Homo sapiens: one gene and its partners. The protein of the gene in region 2 purifies or fractionates together with the protein of the main gene of each other region. This does not show direct contact. Each region holds a gene or a part of one and is shown on either strand. Other genes may lie near its edges.

Region 1 (3,500 bases), on a different chromosome or scaffold from region 2:
ATTACAAAGATTAAACTATAACTGAATTTCATACCCTAATGGGTCAAGTCCCTGGTCTAGGAGCATTAGAGAGGACTCTCTGAGCTTCTGCAGCAACTTCCTTAGCTCTTCCTTAGAAAATACCTGATTTTTAAAAAGAGAAATAAGAATGAGAACAAAGACAAGTAGACAAGTATGAACTTAGTTACCTAATCGATCTGATTAGCTTCATATAAGAAGAAATGCCTCTTTAAGATTTATGTAGCCAGAGCCTAGTAAATTAGAGTGGTTCAGGAATTTCAAGGTGAATTCTCAGAGTCAGTCTATATATTTCTAACTGCTTACAAATATACACACATTTTGGGAAAAAAGTACAAACATTAAAACATTAAAACTGGACTATTACTTTAAGAAAATCCAAGAGCAATTACAAATGTAAACACATCTTCACAAAATTAATATTACTACAGAGCATATCAAATCATTAAAATTTAAAACTACAAGGCTCTAGAACTTACCAGGTACAGTTTGTGGCGCTCAGAGGATACCATATCTGCTAACTGTAGGCATTCCTGATACTGACCAGTACTGTGCAATATCGTATGAAGCAGAAAACACAACATTGGCAGACAAAGCTTTCTCAGTAAGACCATTTGATGTGTTCTTTCATGGTCTTCTTTGGCATCCTACAAACAGACATCAATAAATCATTTTAACAATTTAAGCTAAAGATCCTTACAAAAAGAAAAGCCAGGTACTGAATCAAACCCAGAATGTAATTGGTAGACAAGATTTAACAGCAAAAAAGTATGAAGATGAACAACGTAGACTACAGAGAGGTATGACAGTGAAAATAAAATGCTTCTGCATTTGTATTTCTAATAAACTTACTATGTCCTGAATAAAAACATGCATAAAAAGAATGAGTTGGAAACTGAATATCATTAGAGCAAAAATCAGAACAGAAAACAATCACCACTCCTTTGGATGTTTATACATATAAATAAAGATAGCTCTAAGGAGGCCTGAGAGGACACAACAGACTGACAGCAATGACTGTTGCTGGGAAAAAGACGATGTGGGGAGGGGCACACAGGGAGGGTCAACTTCATTGCAGACTACTTTGCTTATACACATGGAAAATGGAATTTATAATTTCTTTATATAATTTTTAAAAACAGAAAAACAGAACCTATAGATTTGAATAATACAATTAATGAGTCAGAACAGATATATAAGGAAAACAAGCAGAAAAAACAATTGGCATTCCTTTATACATACATGGATCTTTCTTAAAATCGATGTGAACAGTAAAAGTACAGAAAAAAGAGTAAACCTCTTATGCCCACTACATTTACTTACAAAAAATTTGAAAATTAAAATAATTAGAAAGTAACCAACCACATAATTTCTTTTTTTTTTCTTTTCTTTTTTAACCTTTTTCTTCTTTTCTGAGACAGCATCTCACTCTGTCGCCCAGTCTGGAATGCAGTGGTACAATCATGGCTCTCTGAAGCCTTGATCTCCGGGCTCAAGCAATCCTCCTACCTCAGCCTCCCAAGTAGCTAAGAACCACAGGCATGTGCCACCATGCCCGGCTAATTTTTCTATTTAAAAAAAAAAATAATTTTATTATTTGTAGAGATGAGGTCTCCCTATGTTGCCCAAGCTAGTATCGAACTCTTGGGCTCAAGTGATCCTCCTGCCTCAGCCTCCCAAAGTGCTGGGATTACAGAAATTACACACTACAATTTCTGAAATAATCTTAAAAATAGGAAGGAAATCAATAGCACTAATAGTGTAGAAAAAAAAAACAGGACAAGCTAAAATAATAACTGCTCCTTTGAAAAGCCTAATGGAATACCTAAAAGTATCTTCATGTGAGAGGCTATATTAAATTGCTAAAACATTTTTCAAATGGACATGTAAGTGGAGGGGTTAATCAACAACAAAGTATAATCTGGTAATTATACCAAGGAGTAATTGTACTAATTTGGGCTAATCTAGGTCAGGTTTCCAAACATAGGAAAAATTACTATCAATATTTTGGTCTTGTTTGAAGCATAAATACATAAAAGCAAATATTAAAGTGCTTCTTTACAAGGGAAGCACCTTTATTTCTTTTCTCAAATAGATACTTGCTACCTTCAGAGGTGGATTTAAAATGCTTCAAGGTTTTACTTGTAATTCATATTAGTGATCCCAACCTAGAACCCAGTAAGAATAAGAGAACTGCTTCTTTCTGGACCTTTCCATTTGTGCTCCAATGTAGTCTTTCTGTCTATGTTAAAGAGGCCGGGTGCCCCTGGCTTCTGACTCCTTGTTGCCCGAAAAGCAGCAGGTTACTTTCTTATCTCACAGGATGGACCCAGACTTGCTTTTACTAAATCCTTTTGCTGCCATAATATCAGAGTGTGCTGCAGACAATCTCTTCTGCTAATTATAATGAATTCCGATACTAGCGGGCGGGCTGCCAGCAACTATCCAGGGTAATGGCTGACAGACCCAGCAAATTGCTACAAGGAAAAGCAAATAAACAGCTCTGCTACAACTGAAGACATTTTTCTCATCTGAATGAACAAAAGCTTTGAAATAGCCGGTAAATATGTAAAACAGACGGATTATTTCCACTAGGGATATTTCCACTTTTTTTTTTTTTTTTGAGACGGAGTCTCGCTCTGTCGCCCAGGCTGGAGTGCAGTGGCGCGATCTCAGCTCACTGCAAGCTCCGCCTGCCGGGTTCACGCGATTCTCCTGCCTCAGCCTCCCGAGTAGCTGGGACTACAGGTGCCCGCCACCACACCCGGCTAATTTTTTGTATTTTTAGTAGAGATGGGGTTTTACTGTGTTAGCCAGGATGGTCTCGATCTCCTGACCTCGTGATCTGCCCACCTCAGCCTCCCAAAGTGCTGGGATTACAGGCGTGAGCCACCGCGCCCCCCCATGTAGTGCCTTACATGTGAGAAAAACTCATTACCTAATATGTGTTGATAGCAAGAGTTGATTGGAACTGATATTACAGCTATTCCTAATCTGAAGACAGTACATTCACCTCAGTAATGCAGTATCATTCATTTACTAAGTACCACTGAAAGCCTCCCATGTGCTCAGCATTATTTTAAGTGCCAGAGTCAAAGAAATAAAGAAAACAAGGTTACTCCCTTCATGAAGGTTATATTCTAATGAGGGTAGACATACAAAAAGCAAATAAATTAATATGTTTTATATCAGATTGTGCTAAGTGCTATGAAGAAAACTAATGTAGGATATGGAGATTAAAAGGGACAGGTGTGTGTGTGTGTATACACATGCATACATGCTATTTTAAATAGGGTGGTTGGGTTGGGGAGAGGTTCTTGAAAGAGATGACATTTGAGCAGCTGCTGAAAGAAGTACAAAGTCATCCATGCACCTATCTTGGCGAAGGAGCATTCTAGGCAGAGGGGAACCAATGAAGAGGCCCAGAATGCCAGGATATAGTGATGGGAGAGCAGTAGGACACAAGATTAGGGGGTTAGTTT
Region 2 (3,500 bases):
AAATATAAGCCTTTGCTAAACTCCTCTAACTGGAACTATCGGGCAAGTTATCAGACTCCTATCTCTGATTTACAATCCAGACCACTACAACTCTGACTGTAGAGAGCACTGGCAAGGAACTGCAGACACCTTAAGCTAGTTTCAACCTGCTTAAAGAGGCTGCGCACAAACTGTCTTTGTGTCCTGTAGTTCACCTTTTGTTCACTCTTCACGTAAAGAGCCAAATTCCAGCTCATTTTCATGCTAAAACGCTGCCCCAAAGTGAACATGGGATGTATATTATATATATTTACCTACTGTTTATATGCTCAGTTCCCCTCATAAATATGTATAGCGTTTCCCCAAAACCTGCTGAATATGCATGACTCTATTGTGTAATAAGGACCCTGTGAGGCATAAAACCACACCTGTCCCTGCCCTGTGTGAAGACAGAACACCTTTGGTCCACGCTGGAGACTATTTCTTCCTCATGAGCAAAATGATATCACTAATAAAGCTCTCCTTTCTATTAAACACTATTTAGCCACCCTGGGGGTCTTCTTGATGACAATATGAATTCTCATTTTGTGGGACAGAAGGAAGAAAGGAAAGTAATAATATTCTGAGTGCCTAATATGTGGCAGGTACTACTTTAGGTATTTTACAATCCTAAAAATTATATTTTTTGACAAGTGAGACAATGCAGGGAATTAATGATATGCTTACAGTCACAAAGCTTCCTAGTGGTGGAGCTAGGAATGACACCTCATGCTTTGTAACTTCAGGGTCTATATTCTCTCCGCTAGTAAAACTGCTAGGGGAACCTCAATGAGAGATCAAAAAATGAAGAGGTATATAAATGCATTTCCTTTTATGGATTACTTTAATTCTGTAAGGGAAATAATACAGGGGAGTAAGAGAGAACCAGCAAATGGGGCACTATAAATTAACTCAAGATGCAACCAGCACTCTTGTATTTCATGTAATTAAAATAGGGAAAAATCTTGGCTCACAACTCTAAAAAATCTGGAAATCTGTGCTATATATGAACAAAAACATTTCTTTAATATAAGTTTAGAAGGCAGTACACTATACTCATAGGAGTAAAAGAAAGCAGACTCTGCAATGATTAATTCTAGTAGTATTTCATTACATATAATAAGAACAAGCTAAAAAAAAAAAGACCAAATAATGTTTCAATTTGTCAAAGCTAATTTCATTCACGAAAAGCAACGGTGTGGTACTTTAGGTATGTTTTTACTTACTTCTCCAATGGAATCTTGAGAATCCTGGTTGTATACCTGAGTCTCTACCTCTCCATCAGTACTTTCTTCTGCCATAACTTCTTCCTGTATCATAATACACTAATATATTAACCATATCAGTGTAGTAGATGAAGGGTTACCTGTTTTTGTTAGTTCTCTCATTTGAAAAAACCCTTCAAATCTATATTTTATGAAACTATAGAAAAATAAAAAAATTTTATTTAAAAATTATAATCACATTCCTCCTCAGTATACACAAAGTAAGGTTTATGAACATTAATACATGCTAATACAATTAATTTAGTAGCCTTAATGTTTGATTTGAAACCTGCTTCATTACAATTTAATCTTAACCACAAAAAGGAATATAATTTTGGCTAATCTTAGAAAAAGATAGCAGGTAACAGTTTATGTCCATGAGACTTAGAAACTTCGAGATGAAATTCAACTTATGTTTTTATGACTGAGCTTTTTTATTGAAATAGAAACAAATGCAATTAAAGATATGCAAGAATATAAAACACTGTTGGTAATAATACCTGGGTTGTCAGTGGAATCTTTGTAGAAAGTTCAATAAAAGTGTTTTCCAGATAATATATTTTGGCCCCAAAAGGTTAATTTTCTTTAGGCTGTAGCTGAAAAGAGTACCTTAACTCTACTGGTAAAAGTTAAAATACACAGAAAGAACTTTACGCACCTCAGTTCCTACAGGTGTGACACTTTTCAACTTCTTTGGAAGAGGCATTTCCACTGTATCATCAGAGACTTGGTCTGATGCTTCTATGGTGCTATCCTCTTCCTCTTCACGTGTACGCTTTGGCAAAGAAGAACTGGGGGTAGCCGAAACTTTGAAATTATATAAATCTTGAATTAGAGCATGATAATAACTCAATTTAGATAAAGATAGTTTACCCAATATGGTCACTTAACTAAAGGAGAACACAGTAAACATTTAATTGTACAGATTACTAAAATACAATCAATCAACTCCTAGATCAATGTCCATCAACATAATTTGTTTCTGCTAAGCTATGGGTAAACAAAGAGCAACTTATGCTCTGAGTCAATGTTTTTATACCAACCCAAGCTTTGCTTAATAAAGCCAGCCAATTTTTACAATATATCTGGTTCACTGAGATTGTATTACTATGTTGTTATCTACAAAGTTTACATGGGACCTTCTATAAAACTCAGGACTCCTTGAATAAGAAAAAATGTACACTGTATGTAAATCAGTATATAGTCTTATCTTAGGTGTCTTTTAGTCCTCAGGACTTCCGTTAAATTATATACAATGTTTTGCATTAATATGTAAGACCAGTAAAAAAAATAACTGGAGGGGGAGAATCATCTTAATGACAAACAACTGATTTAAAATAGTCATATTCAGTAGTAAACATGAAATAAAATGTTAGTAATATATTCATTCATTCTAATTCCTGGTAGAAAGCATGTATGCACAAAGAATACTTGTGATACGTATTATATCCAAGATATTATAATTGCGTAGGTCTATTCTAACTTCATTTGTACAAAGAATACTCAAGATATATATACTCAAGATACACTCAAGATCTTATAAATGCATAGGTCTACTCTGACTTCATTTTAAAATTAATTTTACCTGTGCCAAATACTGCTGTGGAAGTAGAAGGCCGCTCAACTGGTGAACTCTGAACAACCTCTACTATGTTTGAAGATAACTCTTGATTGGCAGGCTCAATCTGAGGATGACTCTGTTGAGTGGGTTGCACAAAAGCTGTAGCCTGTGTTTGTTGCTGAACAGTTAAAATAGGTTGAGAGATAGAAGGCTGGACATTAGGACTAGTAGAACGAACGGATCCACTTGTGCTTCCAAAAACTGGAACATGTTCCACAGGCCCTTCTGACTGCATAGCTGAAAAATAATTATAATGCTGAATATAAGCCTTCTACTTTTATCAAAGCTGAAATTATCCTTCCTATTCTGTGGTACATGTCACCTTTCACACAGATTTGGCACTTGGTAGACAAATACATTGTAGGTAAAGGTAATGTATTATGCATTTTTATATTCCCTATGTAATTGATATGGTAGCATGCAATAAAATGTTGCCTGAATTAAATAAATATCTGTAACTGATTTTGCATCTATTCATTTAAATTACTGTTGAATAAAATTAATGAAATTAAGCTCAAAGTAAAATTAGAATTTTTCATTAAGCATCATTTAGTTTTTAATTGATATAACAGATAGTAAATTTGATTAGTAATATA
Region 3 (3,500 bases), on a different chromosome or scaffold from region 2:
GTAGTCTGAAACACTGGCCACGACACCTCTAAGAATCTCCCCCATCCAACCATCACTAGCTTTGGTCTTGAATGCCTTTGAGAGGGCTGATGAAAGTATACAACAGTATTTAGGCGAGCATAATGCTTAAAATTAAGCTTTATGTGCATGATTAAAATACTGAGATGCCCTTTCATACCCATTTCTTTGGCAAAAATGTTAAGTTTGATAGTACCAAGTACTAGTTCTGATGCGGGGACAAAGGAACTCACACAGTGCTGGTGGCATGGTGAGTTAGTAGAACCACTTTGGAAAGCTGTCTGCTGTTACCTAGTAAAGCTGAACATGCATTTGGGTGGGCATAGGTGGCCTGGCACTGGCAGTGGCACCCTCAGGGTCCCATGGAGCCAGCTCCTGGCTTACCGTTCGGCAATGGAGAGTGCCATGTTCTTCAGCCTCTCCTTGTTGGATTGCGGGGCACTGATCTGGGGGACGACAGGGCTCAGCAGTTTGTTCATCAGCTCCAGTACCTTGTCAGCATTCTGCTCAAGTTTTTAAAATTAAGGAAGCAATCAATAAAGTAATCAATAAAAGGAACAACTATATAATGCCCCCTACCCACCAAAGAGAACTTTCTGGGGTGACATTTTTTACCGCCTCCCAAGTTCAAGCAATTCTCGTGCCTCAGCCTCCTGAGCAGCTGGGATTACAGGCATGCACCACTATGCCTGACTAATTTTTATATTTTTAGTAGAGACGGGGTTTTGCCATGTTGGCCAGGCTAGTCTCGAACTCCTGGCCTCAAGTGATGCGCCTGCCTTGGCCTCCCAAAGTGCTGGGATTACAGGCGTGAGCCCCTGCACTTGGCCTATAGCTGTTTTTTTGTCTACTTTTCTCAGTTGATAAAGGAGAGAATGTAATCTTGTTTAGGTCATAGAATCCTTAGCAGTTATCATATGTTCTTAGTCATCATTTGTTCTTCGGTAGAAACATGTATTCTAGTCCTCTCAAAACGCCCAGCTAAGGTCTTATTTTCTTTCACTCCTTCCTGCACACTGATGTGGTCTTATTTTCTAACACCACTGTTCCCCAGTGTGTCTGTGGTTGCCAGGGTCAGCATAATGTAATTTTCAACAGTGGCTTCACCATCGAAATGTGATGGATGCTAATTCTGCTGCCAAGTGAGACAACAGTTCAATGCCTGCAGGACATCCTTTCAATATGTTGTTTGGTCAGAAAAATCTTATGGGCAGAAATAATGCTGTAAAATGGGAATTCTGTCCTGACTGGACCATTAACTGTCTAAGCACTAGAGCAAATGCCTCTGCAGGGAGGGTGCTACAACAATGACACTGTCCAAGTGGCTGCACATTTAATGCCAAAAGGCCAGCAGACCTGTGAAGTGCAAAAGAAGGAAGTGGGCACACTTTACCTTGGCAAGGTCATACAGCTTTGCTGCCTCTTCAAACAGTCCTTTATTTTCTGCCACAGAAGCAACTTTGTTGATAATAGGCTTTGTGTCACTAGTAAACTTATCTATGACTCCAGGCTGACAAGACAAATTATGGAGGGGGAGGAAGAGAGAGACGGGTGCACAGAGCTATTATTTTAAACACAGAGAAGCAATTAGGATCCAAAAAATACTTCAAGTGGAATTGCTTGCCCTGGGCAACGCATATATTTCATCAGCCAGACTCTGGCTTTCTTAAAGATATAAAGTCCTATTAAAACTATAAAAGAGACCAAGGAAACTACACATGAAAGGGCAGACTTACTAGAAGCACAGAGGAGTCAGCAATAAGACATCTGTGCTTTCTAATTTTCCAAAATGACCCAGAGAGTCAGTGAAATCAATGATTTTAAATTTGCTGATAAGTAGGAACTAGAGAGAAAAATCAGGAGGCTTAGAAAAAATATCTGAAAAATTTTGGATTTGCTTTCTAAGACAGATGGCAAAAGGAACTCAGTGCTGAAAAAACACACAGCAAGTGGTAACAGGACATTTCTTTTTTTTTTTTTTTGAGACAGAGTCTTGCTCTGTCTCCCAGGCTGGAGTGCAGTGGCGCAATCTCGGCTCACTGCAAGCTCTGCCTCCCAGGTTCACACCATTCTCCTGCCTCAGCCTCCCGAGCACCTGGGACTACAGGTACCCACCACCACGCCTGGCTAATTTTTTTGTATTTTTAATAGAGACAGGGTTTCACCGTGTTAGCCAGGATGGTCTCGATCTCCTGACCTCATGATCCACCCGCCTCGGCCTCCCAAAGTGCTGGGATTACAGGCGTGAGCCACCGCGCCCGGCTGGTAACAGGACATTTCTTAAAAAAAAATCACCATCACCACTCAACAGCAACTAAATGGTCAGGAGAGCATGAGAGAGGCCTTAGGCACCCTGGGAGAATGAAGGCAAGTGCATAACATCTCTGCCTGGCCATTCTGCTTCTCCACTAGCGCTGGACTCTCAGGGCTAGACCAGGTCAAGGTGGCTGGACCAGGTTGAGGTGACTTGCCCTGCCACTTGGGAGGTAGCAGAGGATAAGGTCTTATCTATGTTTCTAGCTCTGTCAACTCACATACAGTAGGAGCCTCCTGGCCCCAGTGCAGCCTGTTAAAGAAGAAACTATGCAAAGCACTCAGCACAATGCCTGTTGATTGTCACTGCCCAATAAGCAAGGCCACTGTCATCAGCACTGTCACTTGCCTTTCTTCTGAGGTAGATGGTGTGAGCAGTGTGAGCTCATCTACAGATTGCTGGGTCCAAATCACTCATTTTTACAAACGAGAAAACTCAGCCCCTGAGGGACAAGTGACTTTCCAAGGGCCACAGGGAGATTCAGGGTCATGACTGGTCTCTGACAACAGGATCTCTGACCCTCCTGCCATGACAACCAATGGGCATAGTGAGTCCTGAAATCCCTCAAGCTTCCAGAAGTATTTCCAGGGTCACTGTGGAGTTCAAAGCCCTTGGAAACTGCATTTTGAAGGAGGTCAAGTGCATGTCTAACTTTCCCATCTTGGGAGAATGGGTGCAGTAATCAATTTCTTTTCCTTGCATGTTTTCTGAGCCAAGAATGGCAGAAATGTATAATAGCATTCTCAGCTCAAAAAATGACAGGCATGAACAAATGAATATTCTGAACATAATAAAAAAGCTATGTAATCACAAATTAACATATTTTAAGGAGATATAAGTGTGTGTAAAACCAAGGTCATCATTTGGGCCCATAATTTTCATTCCATTTTTTAAATTAAGCAACTCTGTTCAGATTTGCATCTTTAGTACCTTGAATCTTAAAATCTAAGTGTATTTTTTGATATTTATAAATCCCCAATGGCTAACGAACATTTCTCTAAGGATGCATTTAACTCACCTTTCTACTTCCGTCATTCTCTAGTTTCCCAAGAATCATATCGAACTGTGGAAGGAAAAAAGTTTACTCAAATTATTGGACAAAGATATAAACATATTCCATAAGTCTTCAGAGAAAAAAGAGGGGAATCAAATGGGATGAATGGGATAA
Region 4 (3,500 bases), on a different chromosome or scaffold from region 2:
AACAAACTATAAACTTATTCCCCAAGAACAAATATAATAATTTTTCTGGAGTAGCAGGTAAGAAAGATATAAATTTATATGTATACAAGAAACTGAAATTAGACTTTATACATTTAAAGGTTACAAGTGCAGTTTTATTACATGAATGTATTATCCAGCATTGAAGTCTGGGCTTTTAGTGTAACCAGCACCTGAATAACATACATTGTACCCATTAAGTAATTTCTCATCCCTCAAACCCCTCCCACCCTGAAATTAGACTTTGGATCCCTAGTTTAAATTCCACCCCTCTCTTTTTTTGAGACAAGGTCTCACTCTGTCACCCAGGCTGGAGGGCAATGTTGCAATGATAGCTTACTGTAGCCTCAACCTCCTGGGCTCAAGGGATACACCCTCCTCAGCCTCCTGAGTAGCTGGAACTGCAGGCGTGCACCACCACATTCAGCTAATTTTTTGATTTTTTTATAGAGATGAGGTCGGAACTCCTGGGCTCAAGCGATTCTCCCCAAGTGCTGGGGTTACACACATGGGCCACTGCCCCCAGCCTAAACCTCCTTTCTCAGTATAGCAGCCTTGAGATGAAGTTCCTGAAATTACTGGCCAGCTTGACTGTTTCCCCACATCACTGGAGGAGGGGGATGCATAGATAAAACAAAATATTCAGCATCATTGTATTTTCTTTTTGTTTCATCAGCATCTTTTTTTAAAACTCACTTGACATAAGTCCCTAGCCTCAAAGAGTAAAGCCTTTGCAGAATCTGCATTCAGATTTCGGGTGTGATTTCCTGACAGATAGTTCAGGTTTGTAAACTCTTTTTTTTTTCTTTGAGACAGAGTTTCACTCTTGTAGCGCAGGCTGGAGTGCAGTGGCACCATCTTGCCTCACTGCAACTTCTGCCCCCTTGATTCACGCGATTCTCCTGCCTCAGCCTCCTGAGTAGCTGGGATTACAGGCATGCGCCACCACACCTGGGTAATTTTTGTATTTTTAGTAGAGATGGGGTTTCACCATGTTGGCCAGGCTGGTTTTGAACTCCTGACTTCAGGTGATCTACCTGCCTCAGCCTCCCAAAGTGATGGGATTACAGGTGTGAGCCACCGCAGCCGGCCAAAACTTTGTTTTTTTTCCTCTTTTTGTTGCTGAGAAATGTAAACTCTTACAGACACAAATTATGTCTCCCATTTTTTAAAACCCACTCAACACAGGGGTCATGTGTAATAGGCCCTGGAGCTTATTTTAGACATTGATTTGAGGCTCTTTTCCCCAAGTGCTGGTTTGTGTGTGTGTGTATGTGTGTGTAAGTCTTTCTATGAGATGAGTGGTACCTACCTGGGCTGTGTGATCTTTTTTATTTTATTTATTTTATTTTTGTAGATACGAGGTCTCACTATGTTGCTCAGGCTGGTCTTGAACTCTGGGGCTCAACCTATCCTCCCTCCTTGGCCTCCTAGAGTGCTGAGATTACAGGTGTGAGCCACTGCACCTGGCCAGCGATCCTTAATAAATATAGATAATGGCCGGGCGTGGTGGCTCACACCTATAATACCAGTACTTTGAGGGGCCGAGGCTGGCAGGTCACCTGAGCTGAGGAGTTTGAGACCAGCCTGGGTAACGTGGGTGAAACCCTGTCTCTACAGAAAATAGAAAAATTAGCCAGGTGTGGTGGTGCATGCCTGTAGTCACAGCTACTTGGGAGGTTGAGACAGGAGAATTGCTTGAACCTGGAAGGTGGAGGTTGCAGTGAGCCGAGATCGTGTCTTTGAACTCCAGCCTGGGTGACAGAGTGAGACCTTGTCTCAAAAAAAAATATAGATATAGGCTGGGCGTGGTGGCTCACACCTGTAATCCCAGCACTTTGGGAGGCCGAGGCGGGTGGATCAGGAGGTCAGGAGATCGAGACCATCCTAGCTAACATGGTGAAACCCTGTCTCTACTAAAAATACAAACAATTAGCCAGGCCTGGTGGTGGGTGCCTGTAGTCCCAGCTACTCGGGAGGCTGAGGCAGGAGAATGGCGTGAACCCGGGAGGTGGAGGTTGCAGTGAGCCGAGACTGTGCCACTGCCCTCCAGCCTGGGCGACAGAGCGAGACTCTGTCTCAAAAAAAAAAAATCTATATATCTATATATCTATATCTATATAGATATAGATATAGATAATGCCAGATGATGGCTGGTTAGAAGGGATTGTCAGGGGCTGGCAGGTTTTGCAGGTGTTAGAATGAGCAAGATGAGGAGAAGGATGCTTACTTCCCTCTCCTTGTAACTCTCTACCCCCTCCCCTCAGTGTTTTTTTATTTTTATTTTTATTTATTTATTTTTTTTGAGACAAGGTCTTGCTCTGTCACCCACACTGGATTGCAGTGATGCAATCATAGCTCATTGAAGCCCAAACTCCTGGGCTCAAGTGATCCTCTTGCCTCAGCCTCCCAAGTAACTGGGACCACAGGTGCGTACAACTATGCCCAGTTAAGTTTTTCATTTTTTATACAGACGGGGTCTTGCTATGCTGTCCAGGCTGGACTTGCACTTCTGGCTTCAAGTGATTCTCTTGCCTCAGTTTCCCAAAGTGCTGGCATTATGGGCATAAGCCACTGTGCCTAGCCCATCAGTGTCTTTTTATCCTTTACTCCTATCAAAATTCATTCACTCAGCAGCCATTGATCAAGTGCCTACTATATACATGTTGAGGACTGGAAATTTATTTGTCTCTTCTCATCTTATCTGGACCCTCTGTGTTAATTGTAATTAACTGTAATCATTCTGTATTAATTGTAATAAACTTGTTGATAAACTCAAATGAGGCCATACCGTTTTGCCACTTCCCCTCCTTCCAGGTTATATGGATGTACTTACATTGCAGGTTTCATTTGTTGGTTCAGTTTTTAAACTAAGCCCTATTGTGTCAAATTATGCTAGGTGTGAGATGGGGAGTTCAAGCTGTGTGTTGTCTTTTTTTTTTTTTTTTTTTTTGCCTCACTTACTAATATACAAGCGCTTATAACCTTTGAGGCTGGCCCTATACATTAAGATTTTTATTAATTCCACTGTTCTTTATCTTCTCTTACTAAGTTCTCAGGGTCGAATGAACTCTAACTGCTCCTTGCTAGTGATAAGCAAGTTGCAAATTACAGAATTGTCAGTGATTGAATACACGTATTAAACCTGTAACTGGGAAGCATTTTTGGTAATTATGAATACTTTTGGAAAAAAAAAAGCTATGGAAGGAAAGTTTAAAATCTACGAAAGCTCAAGTAGATGGTCATGGAATAGCTATTTCAATTTCTAACTATATATTACTTATTTATTTATTTATTTTTGAGACGGAGTTTAGCTCTTGTTGCCCAGGCTGGAGTGTAATGGCGTGATCTCAGCTCACTGCAACCTCCACCTCCCGGGTTCAAGCTATTCTCCTGCCTCAGCCTCCCGAGTAGCTGGGATTATAGACATGTGCCACCACGCCAGGCTAATTTTGTATTTTTAGTAGAGACGGGGTTTCTCC

Evidence for each region. The genes of interacting proteins can lie anywhere in the genome.
Region 1: the proteins of TPR (region 2) and NUP107 fractionate together in Homo sapiens (co-fractionation; 4 studies listed by BioGRID and IntAct, with this or other methods). This does not show direct contact.
Region 3: the proteins of TPR (region 2) and NUP93 purify together in Homo sapiens (affinity purification with western blotting; 2 studies listed by BioGRID, with this or other methods). This does not show direct contact.
Region 4: the proteins of TPR (region 2) and PTPN11 purify together in Homo sapiens (affinity purification with mass spectrometry; 2 studies listed by BioGRID, with this or other methods). This does not show direct contact.

Annotation. Positions count from the first base shown.
Region 1 is NC_000012.12:68,738,978-68,742,477, reverse strand, and holds part of NUP107 (nuclear pore complex protein Nup107), read right to left. Parts: intron 666-3,500; coding exon 498-665; intron 124-497; coding exon 16-123; 3' UTR 1-15. UniProt on the Homo sapiens protein: Plays a role in the nuclear pore complex (NPC) assembly and/or maintenance. Required for the assembly of peripheral proteins into the NPC. May anchor NUP62 to the NPC. Involved in nephrogenesis.
Region 2 is NC_000001.11:186,330,254-186,333,753, forward strand, and holds part of TPR (nucleoprotein TPR), read right to left. Parts: intron 3,142-3,500; coding exon 2,869-3,141; intron 2,091-2,868; coding exon 1,942-2,090; intron 1,329-1,941; coding exon 1,245-1,328; intron 1-1,244.
Region 3 is NC_000016.10:56,834,629-56,838,128, reverse strand, and holds part of NUP93 (nuclear pore complex protein Nup93), read right to left. Parts: intron 3,396-3,500; coding exon 3,351-3,395; intron 1,529-3,350; coding exon 1,412-1,528; intron 522-1,411; coding exon 403-521; intron 1-402. UniProt on the Homo sapiens protein: Plays a role in the nuclear pore complex (NPC) assembly and/or maintenance. May anchor nucleoporins, but not NUP153 and TPR, to the NPC. During renal development, regulates podocyte migration and proliferation through SMAD4 signaling.
Region 4 is NC_000012.12:112,425,447-112,428,946, forward strand, and holds part of PTPN11 (tyrosine-protein phosphatase non-receptor type 11), read left to right. Parts: intron 1-3,500. UniProt on the Homo sapiens protein: Acts downstream of various receptor and cytoplasmic protein tyrosine kinases to participate in the signal transduction from the cell surface to the nucleus. Positively regulates MAPK signal transduction pathway. Dephosphorylates GAB1, ARHGAP35 and EGFR.